Homo sapiens: one gene and its partner. The protein of the gene in region 2 interacts with the protein of the main gene of each other region in a pairwise test. Each region holds a gene or a part of one and is shown on either strand. Other genes may lie near its edges. The genes, in order: ARHGEF6 and SH3GL3.

Region 1 (3,824 bases), on a different chromosome or scaffold from region 2:
TTGTGCCACACAGTGAGAGAACAACAATAGCTTCATTGGATTAGCAAAGACAGCCATAGAAAGGGATAGATGGAAAAACAAAAGTCTCTAGTTTGAGAACTGGTTCTTTCCAGTCCAGATTATCGGGTCTCTAAGAAACAGCACAAAATTGACTCAACATTCCATGATCCTGTCCTCTCTTTCTCATCTGGAATTTAATTAATTTAATTTTCTTTCCTCTGTAAGGAAGGAAAATGGAGTAGCAGTCAACATTTGAGTTCAGTGATATGTTTGGCACTCTAGTAGGTGCTTAAATAGGTTATTTCATGAGAACAGCCTAAGACATAGACTCAGTCAAGGGAAGCAACTAACTAGTAATTGGCAAAGCCAAGATTTGAACCCAGATCTGAAGCCAAAGTCCATATTCTTCCAACCACAACACACAGTCCTCAAAACTGGAATTTTGGCATCATAGGTTTGTATGTTAACAAACAACACAGCATATCTTCCATCTCACTCAGCAAGTACAGTAAAATCTCATCAATTCAAATTCCAATGTCTAAATTTGTGATAACTCAGAAGGAGATAATGCTAAAAGTTTACCTTTGAAGAAGGTTACTGAGCAAATGTGAGAGCATGAGTGAGATGACATGGAGATGTTTAAGTACTTAGGGAGGTAAACTATTTGTTTCGACTTAGCCCACTGTTAGTAGGAGAATAACCATTGCTCATGGAAATAAGCCTTGCTTATCATTAAAATATTTTAGCAGGACTTCTGGTTAGAAATACTTTGCTAGCAGTTAGTTGGGGTATCTGAATACTGTCAAACAGAACTGCACACTCTAAGTAAACCTTTTCATTAATTTGGATGGGCCTCATAATGAGAAATCAGAATGAGTGAGGTTTAACTGTACTTCAAAATCTACAAATATAGGCTGCCCAAAAGACTAAGGGTGTGCTCGCTGCTTCTTGTAAGTCTCCAGCAGGCAGGAGTTGACGAAAGACTCAATAATCTCTGGACAGAACACATGGACTACTTACAGAATGAGCACTACATGATGACGATGAGGTTTTGGATAATGAACTGCAAGAGGCAGGTCCTCTGATCAGTCTGTTCAGCTGCTCCAACCATTCCTGGAAGTCCTGGTTGTTGTTACAATGGACCACAATTCTCTCCACTGTGTTACCTACATCCCCCAATTATGATCAGTTTGAAAACAAAAGGCAAGGAAAAACTTGAGCTTGTCCCATTCATAAATAGACTTCATACAACTAGGACTTGGGTGTGTATTTTCAGGGGTTTTCATACCTATGGGATAACCCTGCTGAAATTTCTATATCAGAAACAGATAACCTGTGATTACAAAGTAAATAAATATTCATGTCTGATTTAGAAAACTGTCCTTGATTTTTACTGCTTACAGAAGCTTAAAAGTAGTGTAAAACTTCACCATAAACAAACTTGCAATCCAAAAACATAAGCACATAGTCCATCTAGTTAAGTCTAAAGTGGGAATATTGTCCTGGTTCCCCTGGTATCAAAGTTGGAACAAGATCCAACTAAGACTATTTACAACCTTTTGGCAAACACCAAACCTTAAGCTCCTTCTTGGGAAAGAAGAGGGTAAGGCCATGATCCCAGTCTTAGCCACTGTGCCATATCAGCACCAACAGTCAGGCCACTACATATAAATGACACAGACCTGGCAAAAGGGATCATAAGCTAAAATGTCAGGGGGCATTACTGAAGCCTGGCATTATGCTCAATTTGTGAAGAAAATTTGATGGCTTTTCAGAACTTTTTAGAAATACAACCAAATCTTACTAACTCATGGGCTGATGATAAAATTGCTGATAAAAGTCCATATCTTTGGCTCCTCTGCCACCAGGGAACAAATGACAGAGGGGAAGAAAATTGCGTTTACATCAGTCCATTTCGTTATTCCTTAGCTCTCACAAGTAGCTCTCATGCAACAGAAAATTGAAACTAATGGCAAAGCCATGGCTTTTGAATGAGAGGAGACTTCTCTGTGCTATTGCTGTACCCTAATTATCCCAGGAAATGGAATATACTTTGCCATGCCCGCATAAAATTTGCTCGTGGCCTATGTAACAGGAAATAATGGCATTTATTTATTAAATTCCCCTTCATTCCAAAAAGAATTGGAAGTAGTTACATGAAAAAGAGAAAATTACCTACCAGTGATTTCAAATGTGCAGTCATTCCCTTCAATTTCATCTAATCTAGTCACCACCGTTCCTGCTATTGGTATTTTTCCCTATTAGAAAAAGAACATTCTCATTAATTCTGCAGTTATACAGGTCTCTGTTTATTTCACTTAGATTTTCTGACCCTCTCAGCAAGGCAAAACTATGGCTAGACGTATTTCTCCAGTCTGTCAATAGATAATATGTTTCCCTGCTCTAAATTTTAATCAGACTAAGAAAGCAAGGGGAAAATGTGGATTGTGTTTGGCTAACACACCCTAAACTATAAGATCAGGATTTACAAAGCAGTTTACTTTTCTAACACATTTTCATAAGAATCAGTAAAAAAAAGTGAAGGCTCAGATGTTATGAAAATTATTAATTGCCAGGCCAAGATGGAACAGGCAATAGTAACTTATAATACTCTATATGTTGGGAGCTGACTGAGGGACATTTAATTTCCTAAGGAGTTTAATAACATGCTTCTTAGAAGCCTGAATCATGTGCTGTGACTATAATAAGACAAACATAGGAGCAGGTCCCAGCTTTATGTTTTCTCAGCAATAATGACATGGGCCTGTACAATACTGCTGCTAATTTATCTAGTTTCCATTTATGCATGCAAAACCTAGTGCATAACTAAAGCGGTGGATATATTCAAGATAAACTCATTATACTAATACAAAGGTCTTTGATCTAAGGAACATCTGCTCTTACAAGCTCTTTAATTACAATGAAGGGTCAGAACATTCTGGTTCTCCTGGCTTGAGCTTTTAATGCCATAGTGGAGATATTGCATCTGGATGGAAACCTGTTTTCGTTAGGGGGTCTGCTATGTGTTTTATATGAAATTTACTAACCTGATAGATAAAGCCACTCATCCGAGGACTTGCAGATAACATTATCAGGACATTTGAAAATAACATAAGGTACCGCTCCTCTTTTTCCTGAGAGGGAATGAAAATAATACATGAAGAACAGAATTGGACACTTTATCTGTTGAGAATTTCTGGAATCACTGCCTTATAACATAGACCTTATATAAACAACTGAAACATTAACGGTAATTTTTTTTTTAAAAAAGATACCCAACTTGAAAACACAAAACTAGTTGAATTTTACTTTGACATGGACATAAACCCACAGTTTATCTCTCTTCTTCTTATACATAACAATTAAATACAAATAACCATGCTTGCTTTCCATGTATGAAAGCCTGAGAAGTCACCACAGTTTATGCAGCCAGTGAGATGTGCTAGACCTGGGCACAAAATAAGTCTCCAGGTTCACAAAATGAAAATATATTTTACTTTGAAAAAATGGCAAGATGAAGGGGTTTTCAGGTGATAAGAGATTTAGTATGCTCTAACATGTTTGTTAAAGTCGTATTCATAAAATTAGCTTTGGTCATTAAGAACAAGATAATTATTGGATTTATGTAAAACATAAAAGTAGATACACTTTCTTTTTTTTTTCTTGAGACGGAGTTTCGCTCTTTTTGCCCAGGTTGGAGTGCAATGGCACGATCTCGGCTCACCACAACCTCCACCTCCCGGGTTCAAGCGATTCTCCTGCCTCAGCCTCCCAAGTAGCTGGGATTACACACATGTGCCACCACTCCCGGCTAATTTTGTATT
Region 2 (3,824 bases):
ACAGTAAGATTAATTACACACCTATCAAAGTGGCTAAAATAAAAAACAGTGACAACAGCAAATGCTGGCAGGGATGTGGAGAAACTAGATCACTAATATATTGCTGGTGGGGATGTGAAATGGTAGCACAACTCTGAAAGATAGTTTGGGAATTTCTTTTCATTTAGAAAAATAAATCCTTATGATAAAGATCTAAATATTAAGAAAAGATTATTCAAAGTAGTAGAAAACTGTAGAAGAATAACTTCAGGGATAGGAAGACTTTTCACAACAGGGCACAAAATGTAATCATGACAGGGCACAAAATGTAAAGTCACAAGCAAAAGACAGACACATTTGACTACATCAAAATAAAAGCTTCTGTATACTCAAAGCAAAACTAAACAAAGCAAACAACAGCAAAAACAACAAAGGGACAAGGCACTCCAAAAACAAAGTTTAAAGATAAATGACAAACTAGGAAAAAAATTATTAATATCCTCATATGGAAAGAGCTCCTATAAAACAATAAGACAAAGCAAACTACTCCCAAAAAACACAAATAAATGACATAAACAGACAATTCAGACATAAGGAAATACAAATTAAAATATAGAAAAGAAAGTTCACCCTCACTAATAATCATGAAAATGCAAATTAAGACTGGATACCATTTTTTTCTCATGAGTGCTTGGCAGAAATGGAAGTCTACTGGCATGGGTGTGGGGAAGCAGGTGTTCATGCTTTAATAGTAATGTAGCCAGCACAGTGATAAAGGATACTCACTGTAGCAAATAACTGGAAAAAACCTTAACGTCCACCAATAGGGAAATGGTATAATAGAAAACTATGAAGCTGTTAAAACAGTGGGATAGATCTATATGCATGATATGGAAATAACTCGAAGAAACAGTGATACATTTTAAAAAGCAAACTGCCAAACAATATGCCTAGTATAATCTCGCATTTAAAAAACAGAAAAAAGGCTGGGTACAGTGGCTCATGCCTATAATCCCAGCACTTCAGAAGGCCGAGGCAGAAGGATTGCTTGAGCCCAGGAGTTGCAGGCCAGCCTGGGCAACAAAGTAAGACCTTGTCTCTACAAAAAATAAAAAAATTTGCCTGGCAGGGTCACATACACCTGTAGTTCCAGCTACATGGAAGGCTGAGGCAGGAGGATTGCTTGAGCCCAGGAGGTCAAGGCTGCACCGAGCCATGTTCATGCCATTGCACTACAGCCTGGGTGACAGAGCAAGACTTTGTCTCAAAAAAGAAAAAAAGAAAAAACAGAAAAAAATCCAAAACGCTGTTTATGTGTATATTTATGTACCTCAATAGATATGATAATAGTTATACCAAATTTTTTTAACAGTGGCTACATCTAGGAAGCGAACTGCGATGGTGTAGGTGATCACAAGAGACTATAGAATGACTTATACCATTAAATTTTTTTTTCTGTTTGATTATTTTACCAATTTTTTTCTGTTTGATTATTTTACTAAAAGACACATTTGCATCACTTGTTTAATAAAAAATAACGATGCAGCACTTAAGATAGTATCTAGCATATAGCAGTTGCTCAAAAATGCTAATTTCAACTTAAAAATAAATTAAGAAAATATTTTCAAAGAGTTAAAAAAATAAAGGATGATGTAGCCATAATGGTTCTATGGCCAAGGTTCTAAATGCTACATTATATAAGTGATAGAATTCTTCCCCAGGGAACAGAAAAAAGGGGCACGTTTAGGGGAAAAGGGAATTTACCAAACAACCAAAGAAAGATATCCAGGGTCTGTGTGTATTCACTGACCCAGAAACAAGCAGTAAATAAGTGTTTCTAGAAGTGCTTTACTAAAGGCACACTTAGCATATTAGAATGGTCAACTTACCTGTCGTCTTCACTACAGAGGTGGTGGAAACTCCATTGAGCTCACTAGAACTCCTTTTCACAGGCCTTGGCTTGTATTCTCGTCTGGGGACACTGGATGCAGCTGATATTCTGTAACACACATCGTAAGATGAGCCAGACATCTGATGTTGAAAGCTTTCCAAACACACATCCTCTCTGCCTTGTTGAGCACAGGAACTTAGGTTACAGCCAGTGGTCATGAAAGGGACGATTTTTACACACTGACTCTTGAGTAGCCCGAAGTGATGGAGGTGATATCACAAATGCAGTTTTTCAACTCCCTATTTGAGCTTGTGAGTGAAATTCATCTTGAAGAAGACTAATTGGGCCAGCCATGGTGGCTCATGCCTGTAATCCCAGCACTTTGGGAGGCCAAGGTGCTCACCTGAGGTCAGGAGTTCGAGATCAGCCTGGCCAACATGGTGAAACCCCATCTCTACGAAAAATACAAAAATTAGCCAGGCATGGTGGTGGGCGCCTGTAATCCCAGCTACTCGGGAGGCTTAGGCAGGAGAATCTCTTGAAACTGGAAGGTGGAGGCTGCAGTGAGCAGAGGTTACGGTGAGCCAAGATGGCGCCACTGCACTCCAGCCTGGGCAACAGAGCACGACTCCATCTCAAAACAAAACAAAACAAAACAAAAGACTAATTTTCTTCATCAAGTCTCTGAGGCATCCAGCAAGTGCCTGGGACGCGGTCGGCACCCAGTGATGGGAGCTGCCTTCTCCCTCACTCTACTCTTATAGATTATGATAGAATTATGAAAATACACTCCTGTCAGTAACAGGTAAACTATCTGCCTGCAGAAGTGGATGCTTCAGGGACTGAACACATCTTTGTCTTCCCTAGGTAACTACGTCATTGATTTAAGTAAAAATCCCTCCAAATTTATGCATTACCATAATCCTGTGTAAAACAATTTTCTGTTATCAAACCTAATTTAAAATATTTTAATAAACAGGGTTGCCATGCAGACTATATATAATATTACTAATTTTCAGAAAAGTATAGACTACATCTATGATTAAATTCACAAGGAATGCAGAAACCTTTCTTTGATTGTTCAGAAGATATTTTTGACTCTTTCAATACCTGTCAATATTATGAACACAGCCTGAAATTTGTCAATATTTTGACTCTTTCAATACTAGTCAATATTATGAACATATCCTGAAATTCGTACTGGTGAAGTGAAGGCACTACCTTTTTTTTTTTTTTTTTTTTTTACAGATATTTACATATTTTCCATACAGCATCTCACTTTTTTCCATAGCTCTGGATGTTTTCCATCCCTTTGTGAATGGGGAGTTAAACTCTCATCAAATCAGCAATGAAGCCAGGGTAGTTCTGTAGGGGTTGATGTCCCAGGTGGGAGAGCAACTTGGTTAGTTGCCCTAAACACGGGTCACAAAAAAAAGGGATTTAATGAAAAGAAAAAGGAGAAAAGCTGCCAGGTCCCTTTTCCCAGTTCTATCCTACTGGCCAAAGCCAGTACTTATTATCTCAGTCCCATCCCACATCCAACCATGAAAGCCAGTGAAAGAAAATTCAAAACAGAATGAGGCAGGGGAAGGGGGAGATGGAGAGATGGAGAGACAGACAGATGGATTTCAATAGATGTTACCTCCGCAGCCCTTGGCTTGTAAGAAACGTGGAGGTGCTTACCGCATCTGTAGCTTGCTCTGCAGCTCCTGCAGAATCTCTGTGGACTGTCTGTGATAGTCTAATGCTGCCTCTATGAACACAGCCAACTGGCTGACTTGTTCTACCTGCAGCAGAAGTGCAAAATTATTCCATGGAGGCCCGAGCCTGTGTAATGTCCAGAGAGAGAGGAGACCAGCAGCAAAGACCTAGCTTTGCAGGGAAGACCAGTGTCTGCCTTGGTCCATTTCATTTAATTTCATGTAGGAGCTCTGTATAATAATCATACAGGTCA

The links.
Region 1: the proteins of SH3GL3 (region 2) and ARHGEF6 interact in a two-hybrid assay, tested with the Homo sapiens proteins (one large-scale study listed by BioGRID and IntAct).

What each region holds. Positions count from the first base shown.
Region 1 is NC_000023.11:136,679,711-136,683,534, forward strand, and holds part of ARHGEF6 (rho guanine nucleotide exchange factor 6), read right to left. Parts: intron 3,135-3,824; coding exon 3,048-3,134; intron 2,259-3,047; coding exon 2,180-2,258; intron 1,167-2,179; coding exon 1,021-1,166; intron 1-1,020. UniProt on the Homo sapiens protein: Acts as a RAC1 guanine nucleotide exchange factor (GEF).
Region 2 is NC_000015.10:83,586,816-83,590,639, reverse strand, and holds part of SH3GL3 (endophilin-A3), read right to left. Parts: exon of another isoform or gene 3,665-3,824; intron 3,658-3,664; coding exon 3,554-3,657; intron 3,283-3,553; exon of another isoform or gene 3,127-3,282; intron 1,979-3,126; coding exon 1,869-1,978; intron 1-1,868. UniProt on the Homo sapiens protein: Implicated in endocytosis. May recruit other proteins to membranes with high curvature.